Homo sapiens: one gene and its partners. The protein of the gene in region 4 purifies or fractionates together with the protein of the main gene of each other region. This does not show direct contact. Each region holds a gene or a part of one and is shown on either strand. Other genes may lie near its edges.

Region 1 (3,592 bases), on a different chromosome or scaffold from region 4:
AAACTTGGAGGAGATTCAGAACCAGTTAATATATTCTAAGGAGGCTAATTGGACCTTGCTTTCAACTAAGAAGAAATATAGAAAGGTACCAGCTTCAACAGAAATAAGGAACACATTGGTGAGCAACTTACAACAGCATTTTTCTTGCTTTGCTTTCTCATTATGTGTCAGATTTTTTTGTGTAAAGTTCCTTATGTCTAAAATATTTTTGTACATATTGAAGTGGTTTTAGATTCCAGATGTAATTATATTCTGTTGAGTAGCTGGTAGCACTGTCACTCAGTAAATGCACAGTGCTGTATATGACAACATCACATTTTTCAAACCAAACTGTTGTGTCATTAATTGAGGGTTATTGTTCTTCTGAGGGGTGTGAAAGGAGAGGGGAAATACATGGTTCTTTAGCTGATAATTGTCCATGGTCAATGAAGTAAAACCATGTTTGTGCAGACAAAAATGTATGGTTTCAGTTGACGTGTATGCTTATTTAAAAATACTTCTGTTAGATCTCTGCTCCTTTATGAAAAACCTAGGCCTCTCCAAGAGCACTTAAAAAAAATCCTACTTGGAATCATAACTTTTATTATTCATTTTTGAACATTATCTTTTGATACCATTACTTTTGCTCTTAAGTGAAATTTCGCCAATATTATATTTAAATTTGCTAATGCATAAATGGATGCACCAAACTGGGTGTCCAAACTGGGAAGTTCAGTTGCAATGGATAAAGAGTTATTTGGAAAAGTAATTACCAGATAATTTTACATCTAATTAACCATGTATGTTTATGTAAACATAAGTACATTATATATTGATCTTGAAACAAACTTTCATGATATCTTTTTTTATTGTTATTGATAGCAGGACAATTGGTTCATTTGCTCATTTCAGCAGGGGGGAAACATCTGACAATCTGGTTGTCAGTCCAGCTGTTTGACTCTCCACATTTTTTACTTTGCAACCAAATGTGTTGGCGTCTTAGAGTTGAACTTTTCTGGAAGGGAAAAAATAGGTATTTAAGAGGCATCTTGGAATTTGGAAATGCATTCTAACTGGTTATCTAAGACACATCCATCTCTGATGCCCTTCACCAGCATGGCAAACACCATAATATTTAAGGACATGGTTTTTTGAATTTTTCTAGACATACCCATTTGAATTAAGACAAGTATTTTGAATAAACCACCATGAGAGAAATAAAAAGTATTAAATCAGACATTTTCATTTAATGTCAAAGCTCAAAGATCATTTTTGTTTATGAGACAAGTTCATGTGGCTTATTATGCAAATTTTTTGCCATGGCTCTAATATATCACAGGGAGAAATCATGGAGAAATATTTGCGAGCTATGATGCATCCTGCCATAAAAAAATTCTTGTTGGATCCTCACATTGCATAATATTTCTCATATTGGATTTATGTCAGTCTAATTCATTGACCATATTCCCCGAGGAATTGTTTTTTCCCCCTTACTCTTTGGAGTTGGAGACAACTTTTAGAGAAAAAAAAAAAAACAAACTTATCTGCTCTTCCTAATGAATCTTCCGGAAGACAGCAGAAGAAAAAAAATCCAACTCTACTAATGGACTTTAGAGTACTTGTGGTCGGTTTTCCTGAAAGAAAGGAATGGTAAAGTTGCAATGGGAAAGAGTCCTTTTTTCTGTGTGATGGAGTTTAATAGGGTCTAGTCTGTCTTAAATTATTCCTTGATGTTGCAATTACTTGGTTAAGGTAACCTTACTTATCTTCTTTATGGTATGTGCCTTTTTCAGACTTACACTTCACTGCATCATGAAATTGACAAAACTGTATCAGATATTCTAAATTGATAATTGGAGAACAGAGATGCTGTTTCATAATGCCGCAGTCACAAATAGGAGATACATAATGGACTCTTACTGCTAAGGATCTAACATGAATGTATGACTGGGATGATTGGTATATTCAGCAGAAGTGGAGGGAGACTATTTCCATGACTGAAAGCTAAAATCCAGTGAACTGAAAAAAAAAAAAAATCAGTGTGTGTAAAAGCAAGTATCTTGTGAGTTTCACATACTTATGGAGTATGATGGCTTTGAGAGAAACATTAGCTAGGTGTTGGTGACCTATTAATTGATTATGAGAAAACAGAGAGGAGAGTAGATAATGCTAGAAGAAAATTCCTCTCCTTGTGTGATATGCCAAGACATCTGGCAGATGTTATGTTGGGCCCTAAGGAATGGACAGTTTAATTTTAGCCCTTGCAAGGAAATGGGAAGTTCTAAGCTCTTTTAATAGCACAAGTCTTAGTTTGGGGAAGGTTGCTTACAAAAATAAGAAAGAAAGGAAAAGAGGCACTTAGTGTTATGTGGAAGAACTCTAGGGAGTAGGGAGTGAAAACTGAAGTTTCGGGGTGAGGAGCAAAAATATTATTTCTCATGCAGAAATTACCAAAATTATTTTAAAAGTGACAAATATGTACACTGTAAGTAAGGACTATTAGTTATTTAATATTCACCAGGCAGAACTTCCAACTTAGAAGCTAGTTGTTTTAGGCCCTAGATCATTTAGATGAAGTCTCCTCCTTCCACTTGCATTATACTGAAGAGGAAACTGGCACAAAGACATGAAGTGACTTGCACAAGGTCAGAAAGTTCAGTTGTAACCGAGCCAGGCCTAGAACTCAGGTCGGCCGACTCCAGCCTAGTGCCCTTTCCACTACCCCATTGCATTTGATTGTTGAGGGTTGTGAAATAGCTGCTCTCTTCTCCAGGGCCCACAGCTTTCTGAGAAACTCTGTACTCATACACTAGTGGGCAGGAGTATGGATTTTTCTTAGTTGGATTTAACACGTTGGGGAGCCCAGGGTTGAGCGTGGTTTCATTCATAGATCCAGAGCCCAATTTTGTTCATGTGACATTCAGTAAAGTGTTAGCTCCCGGGTTTGTAGCTGTACTTTTCTTTTCATCTTTCCTGCTCTCATCTCTCATTCCATCATCCAAGGGCTTGGGAGCCCTTCTCAAATGCCCTTCTTTGGAAGTTTGTGTGAGTCTATTGCAACTTACAATAGTGCCCACAATTGGACTCTGAGGATCTATTTTGCAACGTGGTGCAGATTTAAATTGGCTCCTTTCAGAGATGCCATTTTGTAATACTGATGAATGGCTGAGAGGGTGAAATCCAGTCTGAAACAATTACTGGTGGTTTTCCAATGTTCTTACTCATTCAAAATGTGCCCTCCGTGTATCTTCTTGGAGCCCAACTCTCTTGCAGACTAATGGCTAACCTTTTCCCATTTTCCCAGTATACATGAAATCATCCTTAAGATGACTTTTAACAACACAGACATTTAACCATGAGCAATGGGACAGTCCTGTAAGGAAGGGTGCAATGGGTTTCCACTTCTGTCTCTTCTTGGATGAGCAAAAGTGATTTTGTAAAGAAGAAGAGTGATGTTTGGAAGTTTCCACATTTTCTAAGCTCCTTCCAAACGAATGCATCAATTTTTAATCCAGGAGGCAGTCTGGAGAAGGTAGTGCTGGATGTGGACTTCTGGCAGAAACACAGTTAACGCTGTAAACAGTTGAACCTCAGTGTGGCACTCCTCCAAATG
Region 2 (3,592 bases), on a different chromosome or scaffold from region 4:
GAAGCATACTGCATCTCTATATTTCTAGTATTATACAACAGGATATCAAAATTCATAAGTTGTATTTGAAATGGAGATGATTTTTTAAAATTCAAACAATTCCTAAAAGCACCTCTATATTTCTAAATCAGGTTTGGGTAAATGTGATTAGCTTACAAGTACAGATTTCCAAGTACTTAGTCAGTTTAGCTCCTTATAAATTTGTAAATGACCTCTCATGAACAGAAGGACAAATCTATCATTCCACATGCTTGATGTAATGCACAAATCTATTTGTTACTTTCTAAGGTCATACCTGATATGCAAACTTTCTCCCAGTGTCACAAAATTCACACCACTAACACTAAAAATTTAACTGAATCACATAGGTAGATAAACCTTTATTTACAATCCAAATTTTTAAACAAATCATATGCATATTTATGTCCCCAAAAAGTAACTTATACTAAAAACACTAAATTTTAAATGAGACCTTTAAAACAGATATCAGCCACATTGGCTGGCGGAAACATTTACACAATATATGCTCTAGTACTTAATGCCAAAACTTATTTTTATAAATGTTTAAGAACAGTATTAGCTACCACATCGACTTACATATACAAACGTACATATACCTTCAGAGAAACATTAACTTCCCTCTGGCAATGTCACCCTTTTAAAAATCCTGGTAGAACAGGCCTGGTCTCTTTAGAAAGTCAATGACACAGGGGAAAAATAATAGGTGGAAAGTTTTACATTAAGAGACTAAAGAAATATAACTAAATGAAATGCACGAGCCTTGACTGAATCCTGGTTCAAAAACAAATATTTTGGGGAACATCTAATGTGGACTAGATATCATATGATACTGAATAATGTTTAATTATCTTCAATGCAATGACATTGTATTACATAAGAAAATGTCTTTATCTTAGGAGATGTTTGATGAAGTATTTAGGAATGAAGTGTCCTGATGCCTGCAATTTCCTTTAAAATGTCCAACAAAAAATAGGTAAAACAAATACGACACAAGGTTAACAATTACTAAATCCACTCCTCTGTGCATGTGAAATTTTTCCATCATAAAAATATGGGAGAAATTCTTATTGAGTAAGTTTGTGTTTCCCAGATCTCATGTCAGGTTTCAGGGCATTTTCCCAATACTCATGCTATAAACTACACAGAGAAACTTGAACAGAAAAGTTAAGATGTGTAACCCAAAGCAGGGTTAAGTGGAAGACATGGATGGGCTCGGCTAGTCTTTCTGGAACTGCAGTCTCTTGAACCACTACATATGGAAGACTATAAGATATACACAGGATTGGATTTTACCTGCAAGTGGACAGAGCCCTGGAGGAGTCTGCTGTCGTACAAAGGACAGAAATTCATACTCTGCCTGCTGCAATGTAATTGTACTCTCCTTCACTGCCTTGGTAAGGCCAGACTGCAAGAGAGAATCCCCAGCCCCCCACCAAAAACACATGTAAAGTCAGTTTTCAAAGGCATCCAGAAATGAAATTTCACTTTTAAAATGGGCAAATATAACCACAAATAGACCATTTTTAGAGCTCAAGTTCAAATTGCAACTGCCATCTTTGCACCATTTTTTTTTCTTCAAGAATCCAAGCCAACTTAGTTATGATCCTGACTGTTAATAGCATGTCCACAGTCAAAAAAGACGGTGTTCAAAGTCCAAGGATATTAACCTCTGGGAAGAAACAACTATTAACAGGAGAGCAGCAATCCCCCTTCTCTGAAAGTTGATGTCTAACCTTATCCAAAAGACTGACTTGAGTAATACTTGACAATCCACAATGCGTTCGCGACAGACTGAATGTAGGAGAGAAAAAAAAGAGGACATTCAGGAGAAGATGATCTCGAGAGGTCCCAAAGATGAAAAGTAAACAAGCAAGCAGTTTCCCAGGCTTGCCATGCAATCTTCTCTAAGCCTTTTTAAAATACCATCCAACAATGGTATCGGATTCAGGTGTGGGAGCAAAAAGCTTGCTACTGATCCCCAAAGCAGCAATCCTGTTATTTGGTAATGTTACCTTCCCGTGATGCTCCTTACACCAATCTGACATGCTGTCCAGCAACTCATCTGGTTGTTTTATAATCAGGTTAGGACCCTGTGGATGGGAAACGCCATCAGTCACCAAGAAACAACAGGAATAACCTTACTTTCAGAGGGAAAGCTTAAGCTGTTTTAAGGACTAAATATACATATCAGAGAAAGTAAGAGATAAGGATACTTTAAGTGTTCCCCCTTCATTCCAGCACTGTTCATTAAGGCAAAATAGAACATACGAACATACACACACCACTGAAAACTCTAATCCTACAAATAGATGACACAGATATCTATCAAGGGTCAGCAAACTATGGCCCCACACTTCAGCTATTTATTAATAGCTAGAAAGCTAAGAATGATTTTTACATTTGTAAAAGATTGTTTAAAAAAAAAAAAGAACATATGACAAGAACATATGACTGCACTCAAAGCCTAAACAATTTAATAACTTGCTCTTTCCAGAAAAGTCTGTCAACCCTTGATTATGAGTTCATTTTGAAAAGTGTCTAGGCCAAGCATGGTAATCCCAGCACTCTGGGAGGCCGAGGTGGGAGGATCACTTGAGGCCAGTAGTTCAAGACCAGTCCAGGCAACATAGCAAGACCTCATTTCTACAAAATTAAAAAAAAAAAAAAAAAAATTAGGTGGGCCTGGTGGCACACCCCTACAGTCCTAGCTTCTCAGGAGGCTGAGGCAGGAAGATCACTTGAACCCAGGAGTTCGAGGTTACAGTGAGCTACATGCCACTGCACTCCAACCTGGGTGACAGGGTGAGACCCTATCTCTTAAAAAAAAAAAGTATCTATATTGCAGGTGAAAAAAACAATTGCAAAACCATGTATGTATAGGTATGATTTCATTTACACTTGTTTTAAAAAAAACACGCATTTATATAAACATACAAAATATCAAGACAATACATAAACTTGGAGTAAGAAGGAGCAATAGAACAGGACAAAAATCCAATAGTTCACTACACACATACTTTGGATAGTTACACTGTTTTAACAGTATTTTTATATTTAAAAAAAAATTAAAGAGGTAATTGTTGATATCCAAAACACAAAGTAGCCCTCAAATTCTCAGCTCCATTTCATAGAACATCCAAGTATGAGTCTCTCAGATAAGTCCTGGCAGTTAACAGTAGCTACGGCATTAAAGCAAGTCACCTCAGCTTCTCCCTCTGTAAGATAGTGATAATAATAAACTGTACCCCTTCCCTCATAGAAATGTTAACAGGATAAAAGAAATTATAGATATGAGCTCTTTGAACTCTCTGATAGAAAAGTATTCCATAAATCCAAGGTATTATTACTACTAAGGTGGTAAAAACAGTTCACAATCACTGAAAGAAATGGCTAGAATTTAATTAAAATACGCCTGACATCCTACTACTAAAAAGGAGATTTAGCCAAACAAGAAAACTGGTGTTGGTAATCTCTGCGAAGAAACAAAAAATTTTGCTTGGATAACAGATGTTTTATGATAGTCACGAAGGAAAAAGAAAACCCAAACCTATGAAAATGAAAAAAAATACTC
Region 3 (2,453 bases), on a different chromosome or scaffold from region 4:
TCCTATTTTTTAAATCAGATATATCCTGCGGAGCCACTAGCAGAATGTGCTAAATAGCTGTCTGGTGAATGAAAGAATGACCAAATGGTCCTGTATTTCCTTATCTAGATCATCTCTAAACACCTTCTAATGGTATGGTTTCAGACCTAAATCTTCCCACAAATCTTTACGGATGCAGTAACTTTTGTTAAATCCCTTCGCCCCAACTTTTCATCTACCCTCTGACAACAAAAGCTGGGAAATAGAGGGAAGCAAAGGAATCATGTACGGCTGATGGGATTTAGACAGCACAGAGCAAGTGGTTAGGTTTAAAGAACGTCATCCAAATACCCTGGCAGGAAACCTTGTATACTGACAGTTGCAATATGTGTAAGAAAAGAATGCATCCAATGGTATCCTCAATTAATTAATTAATTAATTAATTTTTGAGACAGTCTCTCTCTGTCGCCCAGGCTGGAGTGCAATGGTGCAATCTCAGCTCACTGCAACCTCCACCTCCTGGGTTCAAGCAATTCTCCTGCCTCAGCCTCCCAAGTAGCTGGGACTACAGGCACATGCCACCACGGCTAATTTTCTGTATTTTTAGTAGAGACAGGGTTTCACCATGTTGGCCAGGATGGTCTTGATCTCCTGACTTCATGATCCGCCCGCCTCAGCCTCCCAAAGTGCTGGGATTATAGGCATGAGCCACCACGCCCAGCCTCTCAATTTTTTTGTTTTTTCAGAAGATGGGAGGCAACATGGTAGGTTCACAATTAAAATTGTCTTGAAAGTATTTATTGTTTAATAATTCTTTCTCCCCTCAGCCCCATCCGGCCACTCTCTCTTTCTGCTTTTCTGATCATCCTAAAGGCTGAATACATCCTCCTCCTGTGTGGAGGACACGAAGCAATACTAAAATCAATACACTCGATCAGGTCTTCATCAGATACCACGTCACTGTGGGTAGAGTGCTAGTTTTCAACAAATGTGGTGTTCTTAGGGCTCCACAAGGTAGTCCTTTCTCAAGGTCGCTGGGCCACTCATGGAGTTGAAATGCCGCTGCCCATCTAAGTACAACATGGACTCTGAAACACAAGAAAGAGAACCTTGGAGAAACTTGTAATACCGTAGAAAACCATCATATCATCATACAAACACAAGACTACTTGGGAACACTGGGACAGAACAAGATACACTGTTGGGCCGGGGTGTGCCACATTCCCAAAGGAGCAGGCCATGACTCCTGTCCCCTTCCTTTGGCTGGATCAGTTTTTTTTTTTTTTTTTTTTTTGAGACGGAGTCTCGCTCTGTTGCCCAGACTGGAGTGCAGTGGCACAATCTCAGCTCACTGCAAGCTCCGCCTCCCAGGTTCACGCCATTCTCCTGCCTCAGCCTCCCGAGTAGCTGGGACTACAGGTGCCCGCCACCGTGCCCGGCTAATTTTTTTTTTTTTTTTTTTTTTCTAGTAGAGACGGGGTTTCACCGTGTTAGCCAGGATGGTCTCGATCTCCTGAACTCGTGATCTGCCCGTCTCGGCCTCCCAAAGTGCTGGGATTACAGGCATGAGCCACCACGCCCAGCCTGGCTGGATCAGTTTTTGACTACCAGTGGTTGCTTGCCCGCCTGGGGGCCACAGGCATCTTTGGCCTTCAGGGCTGCCAAATCTCAAAAGCAAAATCTCCTGAAGACATGCTCTTGTGCTGACAGGCATCAATACACTTCCTCCAATTCAAAAGGAGAAAAATGTCCTTAGAAGTTCTTCCCTTTGTTAGGGACAAGCAATAATCACTACTTACCTCCATATGTTTTTGGGAAAACCAATGGCACTTCTTTTTCCGACATGAACGTGAAATGAAAGACATTGGTGGTTGTATGCTGCTTCTCCTGCAGGGAGGCCACTTCACTGTGTACTCTGACTTGAATATAATTATTCTGAGTAAAGCATACCTAACAGATTATAGACACTATAATCAGTCAACTGCATTAGGAAGGGGAAAAAGGCAGTCATAAGAGAAAACAGTGGCTTTTTGATATAGAAACTTCTAGGCTCAAATGAAAAAAAAAAGTTGTATGTCATCTCTCATCACACACCTACCTGTGAAGAAAGAAAGAGCAATGAGCCAACCTCAACAGGTTTCTGAAACATGATGTCATCTACTGCTACCACAAACGGTCGAGAACCACTGTTGGGGGAAAGGACAGAATTTGGGGTATATTGCAAAATTCAGATGATCTCAATTGTTTCCTCTAACAACTAGCTGAAGCAAAATAAAAATGAACGAAGAATAAAGTTAGAGAAGGGGGAAAAGATCCTACCAGTGAGAAATGGTAAGAGACGCCATCGTGAGCAGATTAGGGCCAAAATAACTATATCTTTTCCTTTCTACATATCATCACTGTATTTTCTCAGTAGTTTTTTTAATGTATGAACTTACAAAGTCAGAGAAACAACCTTCTAAAATGAAGATCAA
Region 4 (4,172 bases):
TCCCTCCCTCCCTCCCAACTGTATCTTCGCTTTGCTTCTTGAAGCTCCCATCTCATCAGCTTTTCTCTCCACATGGCATACTCTCCTCCAGATAGCCATTTAGATTGCTCCCACACTTCATTCAGGCCTTTGGCTCAAATATTACATCCTCAGAAAAGCCTCCCATGACCATTCAATTATTAAAACTGTGCTGCTTTCATCATTCTCTAATTCTTTACTCTGCTTCATTTTCTTCATAGCACTTATTACTACTTGAGATATATTTGATTATTTATGGTCCATCTCCCACATTAGAATGAAAGTTCCACATGGGCACAAGCTTTGTTTCAATGCGTTCCTAGTGCCTAGTTCAGTTCCTTGCGAGTGGTAGGTGCTTAGTGTATATTTAGTGAATTGATGGAAGGGAAGGAGACCAGAATAAAATTCATCATCACCAACCCATCCCTTTCTCCTTCCAACTTCCTAGTTATCTAGGCTCAGTTATCTGTCTGATCTATGAATTTTACCTCTCCTTAAGGGTATCAAATCAATAAAAAATCATGGTGGTATAAAGTATCATACCACACCCACAGGTTACCTAAACTCTAGTCATACTGAACTACTCCTAATTCCCAGTTACACCCTTTTATAACTTAGAGCCTTAGCATGCTGTTCTGCTGCCAAGAACAGCTTCCTCCCCAACCCAAATTCGTAGTCACCCTTTAAGTCATGTCACCTCCTCTGAGGAACTTCACTTGACATATATGCCCCATTTAGTACCAGTCACTTTCTTTTGTATGTACTCAACACTTTTCATATTGTATTGTAATCAAGTTTGTTTTTAAACATTCATCTCCCTCTGACTAGAATGTCAGTTCCTTAAGAGGAGGCTGTTTTATTCGTTTGTTTTTCCAGGCCACAGAATACTGCCTGCCCTATACCATCACCATTCTTTCTCATTTCTTCTTATGTTCATCCCTTTCTTGGTACTTTGGTAAGTCCAGTATCTTGGTGTAGGTGTTTATTTGTCATCTTAGACCTAGACTATCACAGTAGCCTTCTATCTTGTGTCTCTATGACTCTGTCTTTAAATAGAGTCACTATATACATGTCAGTTTTTTTCTTTAACATTTTAGCATTACCTTCAGTGCTCCCTGTGATATACAACATAAACACTTAGTGCTTTGGCCTGTTTTTTTGAACCATTATATTCTGGTCATTTCAGATTGATTTCACAATAAATTTTACAGTAAATTTTTTTTTACTACTAAATTTTACAGTAGTACTCACTTCATCAGGGAATACTACTGCTTTAGACAAATTGATGAACTTACTGTTCCTAAAATAGGTCTATGTTTTCTTATGTGTTTCACATCTCACACTGTTGATTCCTTTACCTGGAATACCTTCTTCCATCATCTTCTTTACTGATATATTTTCCCTTCTTTACTGATATCCTTTCCCAGAGCCTAGTTCAAATGAACCTTTTTGGTGGAATGGCTGGTACAGTAAGTAAGGGATTTATGAGAAATAGGGGAGAGAAGAAATTAAATTTTTCTTTAGGTTTGAAGTGAAACGATTTTGGATCCTTGGGAAATAGAACAGGGCAACTGGTGCAGTCTAAATCAGTTACTGTTTCCCCCTCAATCCAGGGTATGTAAGAGATGGGTAGAAGGGGTGGAAGAAAAAAGGGGGAAAGACACCAACTAATTTTCTCCTTTTCTCTCTTCATAGGTGGCAATTGGATATGGCTGAATGTGGCATCTTTTACAGTTAGCTGCCTTCCAAATATATGGTGAGGATGCAAAATACTTGTACAGCTCCTTCATGAAGGAAAATATAAATACTTGGTGATACTAACAGGGTACCATTAAAAAAATATAGTTAACTCTCACTGAACCCCAATCCAGAGACAAAGATAATCCAAACATATTCAGCACTTTAAAACTTTTAAACAGTAGCACATCTCCATCTTAGCAGCCTCAATAGTCTGGGATGTAGTCCCAAATAAAAATTCTATTACAAATAATTATGAGAGAATACCAGCCTTAAAACCATATGTTATATTCCTGAGATCTGAATCAGTCTTATTTTAGGCATGGTGATAGGACCTTAATAAAACATTTTCATATAGTCATATGTTTTATTTCTTGTGTAATAAACTATTTCATCATTGAAGATCTAAATTTTACAGCAAAAAATCCCAACAAAAGCAACCTGAAAAATTAGAGAATAGAAGATAAAATCTCTTATAATAAAGTGCAATCAATAGTTAACAATAATTAGACTGTGATGAACTTTGATAAGAGCAAATAAAATGGAACTTGTTCAAACTAAATATTTGTAGTTAAGCACTATTCTTTATGAAGGTATACTCACACAGGATCCAAAAATGCAGAAAAGCCACATTATGTCTTATAGGGAGACAGGAACTGGTTATAACTCTCATAGTCTCAAAGCTGAAATTTTAGAACTGGTAAAATGGTGATTTCTCGATTCAAATTTATTCAGTGGCAAAAAAGAAAAGTGATAACAATATTTTTGATATTATGATCTTCTGCTCAGGACAGTCCCCCTCCTTGGACAGCACTTCCCTCCCACCCAAATCTGAATTATTCTTCAACGTTCCTTTATCTATTTCAATCCCACTGTCTCTAACTTTATGCAATTAAGTATACTGTTCTTTTGACACAATCACATTCTGATGAGTATTTCTGCCAAATTTCTAACATGTATTTTATCTTGTGTTTCCCCACCCTGAATGAAAGGTCCTCATAGGCAAGTACAATGTTTTATAATTCTTTGTTATTATGCAGCACTCAGTATAGTGCTAGAGAATCTATTTCCAAAAAGTACTCCAATCTTCAGAATAAGTCAGAACAGATTTTAACATAGTTCTGAGTATGAAAATAAAATAATTCATTAGTTTGGTAAAAGAAATAAGATTAAATCTTATTTAATTTTATAATTGACATAATTGCTGCTAATATATTGAACAGGTAGTCTGAAAGTTTTATATACAGCTGTATTTTCTAGAATTATTGAATGAATGTTTGTGAGTCACTCTTCTAAAAATTTAGATGGATAGATTTTTAGGCTGTTAGTGCTAGAAAATAACTCAGAAGTTATCTCTAGTCCAACCTCCTTCTTTTGATGACAAACTTAGGTCCAATGTTTATTAACTTACTTGTCTTGTCATAGTTATTGCTCGAATTTATTCTAGAACTCATGTTTCTTGAATTCCAGGCTAATCTTCTTTTTACGAAATCATACCATCTCTTCTGGACAGTGGATACTAAACATATAACTGCTACAGGTAGACCTTATAATAACATAAAGTTATTTACTAAAATAACTCTCAGTGTGAAAAATTAGGAATTATAAAATCAAGCTTGAGTTAAGTACCACTTATCCCTATTTATGCTTATACATATTCAGATTACAGGAGAGGGAAGAGAAAACTCAGCAGAAATTTGCATTATGATACTTTTAAATACATGTATTACTTTTAGATAAACAGTGATCAAATAAAGTCCTTAAGTCCCCAGTGGAAAATGATAATATAAGAGACTGTATGAAAGCCAACTAGTATATCTGTTTGTTGTCACATACATTATTGCCTCTAAAGAGCTTAGTTACCAATATTTCCCTTAAGATGTCCTTTTCTGCCAGGGTTGTCAGCGTGGCACAAAGGCCTTTAAAAAAGGTCTTTTAAAGGTTGCTTTTAAAATTACCCTAAATCACAAGATGCAAGTTTACAGACCATTAAAATAATGTATAAAAATGCTGGCATTTACTTCAACTGATTAGAACAGAAGTAATTCTCCACTGTAATGCTAACAGTAGCAATATTTTCTCAGTAATGTGTTGTTCCTACCTTATGCAGGCGTGACCTAGAGATTTGCAAAACTCCTCAATCGCCAACGCTTTTGTACCATTCATATAAGAAAGATAGCCAGGGATGAAGATAATTCCTGGACTTTTGCCTTTTAGCTTCTTATAAGCCAGGTTTGGAAGGTCTGGTCGATTAAGGAATGAGAGTGACGTCTTTTGTCTACAAGCTAAACAAAGTACACAAAAAGTAAACTATGGTTTGTAAACTCAGTCTTTGGAAAACCATATATATTTTCGATCTTAACTTTCTTATCTCAATGAATTGATGTTAAATACTATTTCCATTTAATAGAAAAAAC

Evidence for each region. Proteins that work in one complex are often made in the same cells at the same time.
Region 1: the proteins of ABHD10 (region 4) and ZNF462 purify together in Homo sapiens (co-immunoprecipitation; 2 studies listed by BioGRID and IntAct, with this or other methods). This does not show direct contact.
Region 2: the proteins of ABHD10 (region 4) and REXO2 fractionate together in Homo sapiens (co-fractionation; one large-scale study listed by BioGRID). This does not show direct contact.
Region 3: the proteins of ABHD10 (region 4) and ACOT9 purify together in Homo sapiens (co-immunoprecipitation; one large-scale study listed by IntAct). This does not show direct contact.

Annotation. Positions count from the first base shown.
Region 1 is NC_000009.12:106,866,074-106,869,665, forward strand, and holds part of ZNF462 (zinc finger protein 462), read left to right. Parts: exon of another isoform or gene 1-118; intron 119-3,592. UniProt on the Homo sapiens protein: Zinc finger nuclear factor involved in transcription by regulating chromatin structure and organization. Involved in the pluripotency and differentiation of embryonic stem cells by regulating SOX2, POU5F1/OCT4, and NANOG.
Region 2 is NC_000011.10:114,442,375-114,445,966, reverse strand, and holds part of REXO2 (oligoribonuclease, mitochondrial precursor), read right to left. Parts: intron 2,112-3,592; coding exon 2,034-2,111; intron 1,427-2,033; coding exon 1,315-1,426; intron 1-1,314. UniProt on the Homo sapiens protein: 3'-to-5'exoribonuclease that preferentially degrades DNA and RNA oligonucleotides composed of only two nucleotides. Binds and degrades longer oligonucleotides with a lower affinity.
Region 3 is NC_000023.11:23,702,916-23,705,368, forward strand, and holds part of ACOT9 (acyl-coenzyme A thioesterase 9, mitochondrial isoform a precursor), read right to left. Parts: intron 2,166-2,453; coding exon 2,078-2,165; intron 1,930-2,077; coding exon 1,779-1,929; intron 1,068-1,778; coding exon 979-1,067; 3' UTR 1-978. UniProt on the Homo sapiens protein: Mitochondrial acyl-CoA thioesterase. Catalyzes the hydrolysis of acyl-CoAs into free fatty acids and coenzyme A (CoA), regulating their respective intracellular levels. Regulates both mitochondrial lipid and amino acid metabolism.
Region 4 is NC_000003.12:111,981,652-111,985,823, reverse strand, and holds part of ABHD10 (palmitoyl-protein thioesterase ABHD10, mitochondrial isoform 1 precursor), read right to left. Parts: intron 4,041-4,172; coding exon 3,857-4,040; intron 1-3,856. UniProt on the Homo sapiens protein: Acts as an acyl-protein thioesterase that hydrolyzes fatty acids from acylated residues in proteins.